2 separate regions of the Homo sapiens genome follow, and region 1 is linked to region 2. Evidence: fine-mapped expression QTL. A gene starts in region 2. The other region holds a variant in brackets. All regions are shown on one strand. Distances are between the middles of the regions.

What was found. PIP is the estimated chance that this variant, and not a neighbour inherited with it, causes the effect. A credible set is the group of variants that fine-mapping cannot tell apart.
Region 1: its variant is the best candidate, but not a certain one, in a credible set for the expression of STMN1 in whole blood (INTERVAL, PIP 0.60).

The regions. Positions count from the first base shown.
Region 1 is chr1:25,986,030-25,991,404 of GRCh38, reverse strand. PAFAH2 (platelet activating factor acetylhydrolase 2) reads left to right here. Exons shown (of 11, transcript NM_000437.4): 2 at 542-678; 3 at 1,804-1,957; 4 at 3,078-3,174. The coding sequence starts at 589. Among named protein-coding and RNA genes, the nearest start is that of PAFAH2, 9.3 kb to the left of the region's middle. The variant A/G (reference allele first, on the strand shown) is at 2,759.
Region 2 is chr1:25,903,706-25,909,080 of GRCh38, reverse strand. STMN1 (stathmin 1) reads left to right here and starts at 2,662. Exons shown (of 5, transcript NM_005563.4): 1 at 2,662-2,692; 2 at 4,343-4,417; 3 at 5,268-5,375. The coding sequence starts at 4,405. MIR3917 (microRNA 3917) reads left to right here and starts at 2,627; the gene lies at 2,627-2,719. LOC105376885 (a long non-coding RNA gene) reads right to left here and starts at 2,531. Exons shown (of 2, transcript XR_947102.1): 1 at 2,435-2,531; 2 at 838-2,045. RefSeq lists silencers at 2,420-2,729, 2,750-2,839, 3,230-3,649, 3,429-3,723.

The sequences.
Region 1 (5,375 bases), 82 kb before region 2:
AGGAGGCTGAGGCAGGAGAATCGCTTGAACCAGGGAGTCGGAGGTTGCAGCGAGCAAGATCATGCCACTGCACTCCAGCCTAGCAACAGAGCGAGACTCCGTCTCAAAAAAAAAAGTACCTACCTCAGAGAGTGGTTGAGACAATGAAATGATGCAATGTGTATAGTGTCTATAAAGAGGTCAGTACAGTGCTAACCGTAAATAATGGATCTTAGTGGTTACTATTAGCCTCAGGAGAGCAAGGTCTGTGTGACAGTCTCTGCAGCAGTAGCTGCTGGATAAACATACGTTAATGGGCTGTAAGGAGTATGGATGGCTCTCTTTCGTCTTCCAGCCATCTCCTCACCCTAGCAAAATAAAAAACAACCCCCAACCTTGGCAAAGGCAATGTAGCAAAGTAGTAGGTGCAAGATTTAATGAGCGACGGCAGGGAGGATGAGGTGCTAAGGAGGGGTGGACAGGGTAACAGATAACACATTTCAGCAACAGGAAGCCGAGAGGAAACCAGCAAGCGGCTGCTGTTCTGTGTTCCCCCATCCAGCCAGCAAGTTCAGCTCCGGCAAGTCATTTGATTCACCCGGTGATGAAATGGGGGTCAACCAGTCTGTGGGCTTTCCACCTGTCACAGGACCCCACCTCGTAGGCTGTGGGGATGTGATGGAGGGTCAGAATCTCCAGGTAAGTGTCCCCAGCTCCCTTTCTTCTGTTTGCACTGCTTCTGCCGGCACCGTGACTTACTGATCACAAGTCTGATCCTGTATTCCCACGGTGGGGAAAATGAATTAGAGCGGGTCTGGATTTGGTTATCAAGCCCCCAGGTCTGTCTTCCTGAGCTTTTTCTTCCTCTTTCCAAACATTAGAAACATCCCAATAGACAGAGATAATGCGTTCATTTTCCACCTAGGAGGAAAGGGGGGACTCTAGCTTTAGAGGCAGCTCGCAGATCCTCTCACCTTTCTTGAGGGCAGATGCCTGATCTTGGAAGGGTTTTAATCGTATCATAATCTGAGTGTGTGAGAGAAAGAGCCATGGGCGTGTGCCTTTGGCCTTGGACTCCCTGACCTGGGTAGGGGGACAGCTTCCTTTTCTCTCTCCTGCCTTGATCTGTTTTCCCCTCCTGCTTTGACTTCTGGACTGGTCCTCTATCTTATATATATGTATATATAGTAGAGACGAGGCCTTGCTATGTTGCCCAGGCTGATGTCTAACTCCTGGCCTCAAGCGACTCTCCTACCTCGGCTTCCCAAAGTGCTGGGATTACAGGCATGAGCCACTGTGCCTGGCTTAGTTCCTAGGTCTTTCTCTGCTAGCCCTTGGACTTCCTGTCTCCCTTGAGAGGCACACACTTCCTAGTAACCCCTCACCTACTCCCATGTAAAATGAGTGTGCTGTTGCTTCCCAGGGGCTGTCCTAGAGCAGAGTGGCCTGGATGAGCTACCAAGGCCACCCTGTTCAGCACGAGAACTAATCTCTAACTCCTGGGGCTCCTCTAGGCCTAGGTTCAGGGCCAGATTTAAATCTTTCATTGTCCCAAGCACTCAAATATTTTTGGTGCCCCCTCCCACAATGTAATTCAAAATACAGTTGGCTATTTGAAATAACGTAAGCTTTACATATATGCTAAAAATCAAATTGCTTCTTTCCAGATTTCTGAATGTGAAATTCAGGCATGCTAATTGAAACTTCAGTTTCCCTGTTTTGGTGCCCTGTTTTGCTGGTGCCCCAAACACCTGCTGAGTGTGGCTGTTGGGAAATCTAGCCTGGGCTCCTTGCTCTGAGCAGCTGCTCTCTTCTTTCCTACAGGGGAGCTTCTTTCGACTCTTCTACCCCTGCCAAAAGGCAGAGGAGACCATGGAGCAGCCCCTGTGGATTCCCCGCTATGAGTACTGCACTGGCCTGGCCGAGTACCTGCAGTTTAATAAGCGCTGCGGGGGCTTGCTGTTCAACCTGGCGGTGGGTAAGGGCTGGCCTGACCTCTGCATGCTTTCCCAGTTGCTTGGTTATGTTCCTGGGAGATCCCCAGGTGGACGCAGTACCTTATAGCCTGCAGTGTCCAGGCTTTTGTAAGGGGCATCCATTAGCCAGTGTGGTATGGAGAGTTGGGAGAGAATTACATATGAAAGAGCTTTGGTGACTGAGTTAGACTTTCCTGGATTCAAATCCAGACTTTATAAGTTACTAGCCATGGGGTTTGGGCAAGTTACTGAACCTGTCTAAATACATGTCTTTGGGGGTTTGTAGTACGGGATGTACGTAAAGCCTCTAATGCGGTGCTTGGGACATATAATGTGTTCCATAAATGGCACTGATTGCTCCTTTGTTTAGCATGTATTAATTCCTACTCTGTGCCAGCTATTGTGTGTATCAAAGAAAGATTCTTAACTGTCAAGGAGCGTACAGTTTCCTGCAGTTTTCCCTCCAGTCACCCCTCTTCTGAGTAGGGTAACATTGAGTCATCCACTTCCCCCAAAGGTCCCACACCTAGGAATTCCACCCAGTGCCTTGGCATCTCAGCAGTTTACCCCGGGTTCAGTACTGCCACTTTGGACTTAGCTTCCCATTTTCTTTTCCTTTTTTTTTTTTTTTTTTTTTTTTTTTGGTGAGATGGAGTCTTGCTCTTGTTGCCCAGGCTGGAGTGCAATGGCACAATCTCAGCTCACTGCAACCTTCGCCTCCAGGGTGCAAGTGATTCTCCTGCCTCAGCCTCCTGAGTAGCTGGGATTATAGGAGCCCGCCACCACGCCCAGCTAATTTTTGT[A/G]TTTTTAGTAGAGACGGGGTTTCACTTGGCCAGGCTGGTCTCTTGACCTCGTGATCCGCCCTCCTTGGCCTGCCAAAGTGCTGGGAATACAGGCGTGAGCCACTGCGCCTGGCTTAGCTTCCCATTTTCTGTTGTGTTCACTCTTCCTAGGGAAGAAAGGGAGAAGAAATAGGTGATTAACTGCCCTGAGCTGCTCAGGGGCCGATGGTGGTTCTCCAGAGGGGAGAAACACATGTCCCCACCCATACCTATACTCAGGCTGCCCTTGGGATAACAGCTTTGGGGCAGCCAGATATTCTATAGCCCATGTCTCTGCTAGGATCTTGTCGCCTGCCTGTTAGCTGGAATGGCCCCTTTAAGACAAAGGACTCTGGATACCCCTTGATCATCTTCTCCCATGGCCTAGGAGCCTTCAGGTAAGAGCTTCTTTCCCCCAGACCTTGCCATACTCCTTGCCTGGTGACAGCTGCTGAGTCTTAGCTTATTCTCAAAGGGCAAAAAAAAGACATTTCCATCTGCTAGCTGTCTTATCTCCCATCTGCTTCGTCCCATAGCATTGGGTTCACCTTCCCCAGAAGGCCTTTTTCAAGTCCTTTTCACCTTGTGGAGCCTTTCAGCAGCCTTTATATGCTTTACTTCTCATGGTCCAGCATTTATATAAATAAACACTTTTAGCTTTCCTCCTATGTGATAGCCCAGAAATGCTAGAAGGAGCATGAGCTTTGTGATCAGAGCATCATTTATTTATCTATTTTATTTTTATTTTTTTCAGACAGGGTCTCATTCTGTTGCCCAGGCTGGAGTGCAGTGGTGTGATCACAGCTCACTGCAGCCTCAACCTCTTGGGCTCAAGCAGTGCTCCTGCCTCAGCCACCAAGTAGCTGGCACGTACCACCACGCCTGGCTATTTTTAAATTTTTTTTTTTTTTTTCAGGGACGAGATCTCACTGTGTTGCCCATGCTGATCTTGAATTCCTGAGCTCAAGCCATCCTCCCGTTCTAGCCTTCCAAAAGTGCTGAGATTATAGGCATGAGCCATTGTGCCCCACCAAGAGTCATTTATTTAACATGAGGGTTCACTCTGTGTGTGGCATTGGCGTAGTAGCGAATAAGAGACTTGCTCCCTGCACTTGTGGAGCCAGCAGCCTCGGCCTCCCAAAGTGCTGGGATTACAGGCGTGAGCCACTGCGCCCGGCCCCATGTGTTCTTATTTAAGCTTGTGAATGTTCTCTCTGTCTGTTCATCAACATATATGTCTAGTTTAGGTCCCAGAATGTTGCACATCTCAAAGGCATCTGTTTTTGCCTCTCAGCCCCCAAACCATTGTCCACATTGTAGCCATGGAGATCTTTTTATTTTATTTTATTTTATTTTATTTTATTTTATTTTATTTTATTTTATTTTATTTTTTCTGAGACAGAGTCTCGATCAGTCGCCCAGGCTGGAGTGCAGTGGCGTGATCTCGGCTCACTGCAACCTTTGCCTTCCGGGTTCAAGCGATTCTTCTGCCTCAGCCTCCAAGTAGCTGGGATTACAGGCACCCAACACCATGTCCAGCTAATTTTTGTAGAGACAGGGCTTCACCATGTTAGCCAGCCTGGTCTTAAACTCTTGACCTCAGGCAATCCACCTGCCTCAGCCTCCCAAAGTGCTAGGATTACAGGCATGAGCCACCGCGCCTGTCAGGGAGATCTATTTTAAAACGAAATATGATCTTGTCATTCCAGCACTCAAAGCAGTGCCCAGCATATAATAGGTACTCAATAAATATTTGTTGAGTGAATGAATGAATGTTTTTTCCCACTTAAAAATTTTTGGCCGAGCGCGGTGGCTCACGCCTGTAATCCCAGCATTTTGGGAGGCCGAGGTGGGTGGATCACCTGAGGTTGGGAGTTCGAGACTAGCCTGACCAACATGGAGAAACCCTGTCTCTACTAAAAATACAAGAAATTAGCCAGGTGTGGTGGTGCATGCCTGTAATCCCAGCTACTTGGGAGGCTGAGGTAGGAGAATTGCTTGAACCTGGGAGGTGGAGGTTGCAGTGAGCCAAGATTGTGCCATTGCACTCCAGCCTTGGCAACAAGAACAAAACTGCATCTCAGAAAAAAAAAATTTAATAGCTCTTTGAACCTAATTCAGTTCTTTTCATGGTCTTACCTCAATGCAGGTCCAAGACAAAGTTTCTAGGCCTGTTCCTTGCTATTTGCCCCAGTGTAGCTCTCCAGACAAAATGGCCTTCTTTCACTTACTGAAAGGCACTGGGTTATTTCCTCCCTCGCTGTCTTCATCTGTGCTATGCTTTGTGGCTGATCTTTTTGCCTGGACTATTCACCGTTCTGCTCTTCTCTTCCTCTTGCCCCTCTCCGTCTTTTCCTGCTAATTCCAGATTACCTTTAAGATCTTAGTTTGGATGTCATTGTCCTAGGGACACCCATCTTGACACCTATATTATATTAGGTTAATTTTTCCAGAATGTGCTTTCATAAGACAATCTATACTTCTCAGCATTTAACATAATTGTAATGAATTAATTACTTGTGTAATTATTCTTTAATGCCTGTCTTCTTCACTAGATTGTAAGCCTTCTGAAGGCAGAGACCACATCTGTCTTCTATTG
Region 2 (5,375 bases):
CAACCAAACCATCTGAGCAGAAGCAAAAATAATTCTTATGGGCAAAGATAGACAGTTCCAAGATGTGAACATTAACTCCTTGCTGCCACTTCAGAAGAGAGTGGATCTTGAAGTTCGTTTTAGGAAGCTTTCGAGAAGGGCGATTCTGCCCCTCTCCAAGGTGAAGTGGCAAAACTGTTGTCTCTCCTTACAGTTGAAAGCCCTTCCTATTCCAAGGCTTATATAGGACACCCACAAAAGCTGACAATAATGAGCTGTGATCTGGCTCTTGGGAAGGCAGCCCCACCCTAAAGAACAAGGATCAGACTGGGTGTGGTGGCTCATGCCTGTAATCCCAGCACTTTGGGAGGCTGAGACAAGAGGATTGCTTGAACCCAGGAGTTCGAGGCCAACCTGGGCAACATAGTGAGACCCTGTCTCAATTTTTTTTAAGTCAAATAATAATAATAATAATAATAATAATAATAATAATAATAATAATAATAAAAGGACAGGAATCCCACCTCAAAAGCACCTTTTTATTCAAAGGCTCATTCTAGGGGAAACTTTAACCCAGCCCTCTCAGTCCTCAAGCAGCTGTGAGGAGCTTGGAACATTGTCACAGACTGGCAGAACCAGGCATCTCCCAACAAACCCAGAAGCCAAGTGGCATTGCTAAAAAAGATTAAAAATGAACATGAGTTCTAACATCTACGTTCCTTGCTATGGTTTCCATGGAAATAGACATCTGCTCTAGGGAGAAAGAAAATGTGGGGGGAAGCAGTGTAAGTGCTTTCAAATTATCAGTGTTTTGAAAGATTTATTTCTTTTTTCTGTCACAACATTAATAGTCAGGAATGTGAGACTTTTGTGTGGCAATTTATTGTACTTAAAAAAATGCATTAAATGAGTGGGACCTTCCTCTGTGAACCTCCAGATCAAATACAAAGACTTCAAGATAAAAAGCCTGTTCAGTGGGTAAGGACCTCTTGGGCTTGGGTTCCTTGCTCATTTGTGTTGCCTGCCTATCTGTCGCTTTCCTGAGGGGTCTCATGCCCATCCTTCTCCAACTTTTCTAATGATGTCTGAGATTCTGTTCAGAAAAATGACAGACGGAAGCACCTAGCCATTTTGAAGCTAAGTTTGGTCTGAGAAGAAGCCTTTCAAGGCTCAGTATCTGAATTATTCCTGGTCCTGCTCACAGGCTAAGTGAAAACCACTTCGATTGGCTTGGGGGGGAGGCCGACCCCACACAAGGGCGATTGTTGGAAAAAATGCCGCAACAAGCATATTTCAGGCAACAGCGCATTGCTAATTGTTTGCTTTGTGTAGTGTGCTGCTGCTTGTATGATCCAGTTTTTATTGTCTTGGGCACCCCTTAGTTGTATTTTATCTCTGGCACATCCCTGGTGACTAACTAGGCATGAGAGTCTTTCTAAATTAGGACTGTTGTTTCAGGAAGGTTGGTCACATTTGTTTCTTGATTTGGGGAGATGCAGCTCATTAATAAAATAAAGATATCTCTTCTGCTTAGTCAAGATCTCAAAGCAGGTGTCTTGGTGTATTGACCACCAACCGAGGACACGGTCTTGGTCAGAGAATGGGAGGAGGCGGGGACCATGTTCATTTCATTTATTTTTTTCCCCTTTTTGTGAGAGAAAGGGCCAGTTATTCTAAGGCACGGTCAGACCAATTTCCTTTGTGCCTTTGCTGAGGTTCTGAGCTATCCAGGTCAGGGAGAACAGTGACCTTGTGGCTCCTTTTTCGATTTTTAAAAAGAACCCAGTGCTGCTCTGGGGAGCACGTGCTCTGAGAACAAAAGCAACACTTAACTGCAATCTGTGTAGTCTAGAACGGCTATTGCTCTTCCTCCCCTATCATCCGCAGAAGGCTTGGAAGAACAGATGGAGTCTGCATTTAAGCTGAGTGGCTTTGTTAGACCAAAGGCGATCAAATTCCAGAGCCCCACGCTTTCCCGCACAGGTCCCTGGTCACCGGCTCGGGAACCTGAGGATGCTGGCAAGAACGCACACAGTGAGGGAAGGGCCACGCCCGCGACCTGTGGGCTGAGTGGATTAGAAATTACGATGATGTCACAATATGGGTGACACGCCGGTGTCGGTGTAGGGTGCCGGGGGCAGGGGGCCCTGCAGGGGCGTGGAGTGGCATTGTGCTGTCACAGGGGCTCGGGCGTCTTAGGCACCCATGTGGGTGGCGCACTAGAAGGGGCACTGCTCTGTCCGAGTGCTGCCCTTGGGGCGAGGCGGGCATGTGGCTCTACAAGGTGGAGTCCAGGCGGCCAAAGTTTGGAAAGGTAGGGAAGGACCCCCCCGCCCTCCGCCTGCTCCGCCCTGCCCTTGTTCTCGAGAATGGGGAGCTGGTTCGGACCTAGTCCGGGGTCCACTGCCACGCCCTCTTCCACGGCGAGACCACCCCCCTAGTCCCAGGCCCACACCTGGGGATGCTCCCCAGGCGCCCTGCAACCCCCGGCATTGTCCTCCTGCCCTCCGGGACAGGACTACACTTCCCGAGGTGCTTCGGGGTCCCGGGGGGCGGCGCTCCACGCGGGTTGTGGGGGGCGGGGGCGGCACGTGCCGCCGCTCTCGGCCAATGCGGAGCCCCGCGCGGAGGTCACGTGCCTCTGTTTGGCGCTTTTGTGCGCGCCCGGGTCTGTTGGTGCTCAGAGTGTGGTCAGGCGGCTCGGACTGAGCAGGTGGGTGCGGGGCTCGGAGGAGGCGGCGGCTGGCTGAGGCCAGCAAGAGGGACGCGGTCGGCGGGAGGGGCTGGGCCGTGGCAGCGACCCCCTGCTGCAGGGCGGCGGGCGGGGCTGCGGGCCTCGGAGGGGTTGGTGGGCGGGGGTCGCTCCGCTTTGTGTGTGGCTCGGGCGGAGCCTCGCCTTTGTCCCCGCTCTCCGGGGGCGCGGCTGTTCGTGGGCAGGGGGCTGGGCGATCACCGGGCGTCCGCTCCGGGGTGCCGTCGAGGAGACAATAGGGGGCGTGGGCCCTCGTTTACCTCCCTCCCTCCCTCCCTTCCCTGCGGGCCCCGCCGGGTTCCCCATTGTCTGAAGGGACGGGGCGGTGCCCCAGGGACCAGCGGCTTTAGGACCAAACTGCGGGCAGCCAGGGCCGCGACCCTCCCTGCGACCGTCCCCTGGCGACCGCAGCTGGTGATTGAGGGGCGGCGCTCCCGGGCCCCACGAGGGTTCTTCTGTCTTCGCGGCCGGACGCGCGGACAGCGTGGGTGGCGGCAGGTTGGGCATGGGGACGGCGGGAGGCGGTGGCGAGCTCACCGCGGGACCACCCGGGGGCCTGTTCCCGGGGCCTGCCCCACCCGCTGAACTGTGAAGGGGGTGGTGGCGGCGGCCTGGAGGTGTTTTTGGCGGGAGTTGGGGGGGGCGTCCGCGCAGGGGGAGTCAGGCAGGGGCGGAGTTACCCGGATTGGACCGTTAGCCCCGCCCACCCCTCCCCTTCCCACGCGCGCGGGCTCCGGGGTGTTGAGTTCGGGGAGATTCGAAAAGGCGCGGGGAGGAAGGGGGCGGGGCCAGGGGCCGGAGCGCAAGGCGTGCTCTGATTGGCCGGGGGCGACCGGTCCTCTTTTCCTCGCCCGGACCAGGGCCACGCCCATCCTGGGTCCGGTGCTGCGTCTAATTCTCTGCTTTTCTTAAATCTTGTCGCTGCCTCTGATTTTAATTCCTAGCTTTTGGGAACCTGTCATCCTACGTTTTTGGTACTAGCTGGCGTCTACAAAAGTCATAATGTTAAAAAGATCAACAAGAGATACAGCATTTTTCATGACATAACGGCAGCAAATATAAGTCAAAATCTAGAGGTTCATAAACATTTTGCTTGCTGTTGGGCAAGGAAGCTTAAACCTGAGGGACAATAGGAGTTCAACATTATTGGTTACTATTAGCTTGGGCGTTTTCTTATCCACCACGTCAGACACAGACAAAGCAGGGGTGGGTATTTCATTTGCACAATGAGTTGTAGGCAGTATTAAGATGGCTCCGGGGGCACTGTTGAGTTGAATCTGGAATATCTTCTTACAGTTTCGGTGAAATGTTAAAGAGTTTATGGGGGAAAAATTCTTCACCCTTGTGACTTTGTCTGATTTTAAAAATCCAAGAGTTTTATGACCGAGAAAGCTCAGTTAACTTGATTTTCTGGAACCAATATCATATTCAGGTCATATTTCCCAATGTTTATTTAGTAGATTTTGATAATTTTTTTCGTGGTTAATTTAGACGTCTTTATTCCACGTATTTTTCTGACGATGTATGTAGATGTGATGTGAGATTTTTTTGGGTTGATGACATATAGAAAGGCAAAGAAAGTGATTGCATGTTTTTGAAAATCATTTTCAGGACTTTCCTTATCCCAGTTGATTGTGCAGAATACACTGCCTGTCGCTTGTCTTCTATTCACCATGGCTTCTTCTGGTAGGTAATCTATTTGGAAAATCTGAAATTGTAATGGGCTTATGATTTTAGATTGAGATGGCTCAGGTCTTCGCCTTTGATTTGGCACTTATGTTTTGGTCTTACCAAAACCTATTTTATGAATAGGAGAAGAATTTAAAAATGATTATCACTTGAATGTGCCGAGAGCTCGTAATTGTTTATTGGACAGTTTGGCTTAGTCTGAAGCAAAATTGTGGAGTTTGCACAAGTCTTTTGTTTATGAAAGCGATTGTCAGATACTGATGTCTCAAAACAGTATTTATTAATCCAAAAATGTTGAGCTTTGTTTTTCTGGGAGATGGTTTTTATTTTTTTTGAGACAGGGTCTCACCTTGTTGCCCAGGCTGGAGTGCAGTGGCTTAATTATAGCTCATTGCAGCCTTGACTTCTGGAGCTCAAGTGGGCTCAAGCGATTCTCCCACCTCAGCCTCCATAGCATCTGGGACTATCGACATGGGCCACCACACCCACCTAATCAAAAAAAATTTTTTTTGTAGAGATGGGCTTTCCCTTTGTTGCCCAGGCTGGTCTCAAACTTCAGGGCTCAAGGGATCTTCCCATGTTGGCCTCCCACGGTGCTGGGATTATAGGCATGAGCCATGGTACCTGGCCTTGGGAAATGGTATTTAGATAATAATATCTTGCCTGCAAATACATCTTCCCCTAGTGTCAGTAGACTGATAGGAATAAAAAGGGGAAAAAAAACACAACTTTCCTCATCAGCCCTAGTTTAATACATTAAATTGATTTGGGTTTTAGAAAATTATAGTACAGTTTATTAGAACAGGAGAATCCTGGTTTTCTGAATTATAAATATAATCAATTCTAGATATCCAGGTGAAAGAACTGGAGAAGCGTGCCTCAGGCCAGGCTTTTGAGCTGATTCTCAGCCCTCGGTCAAAAGAATCTGTTCCAGAATTCCCCCTTTCCCCTCCAA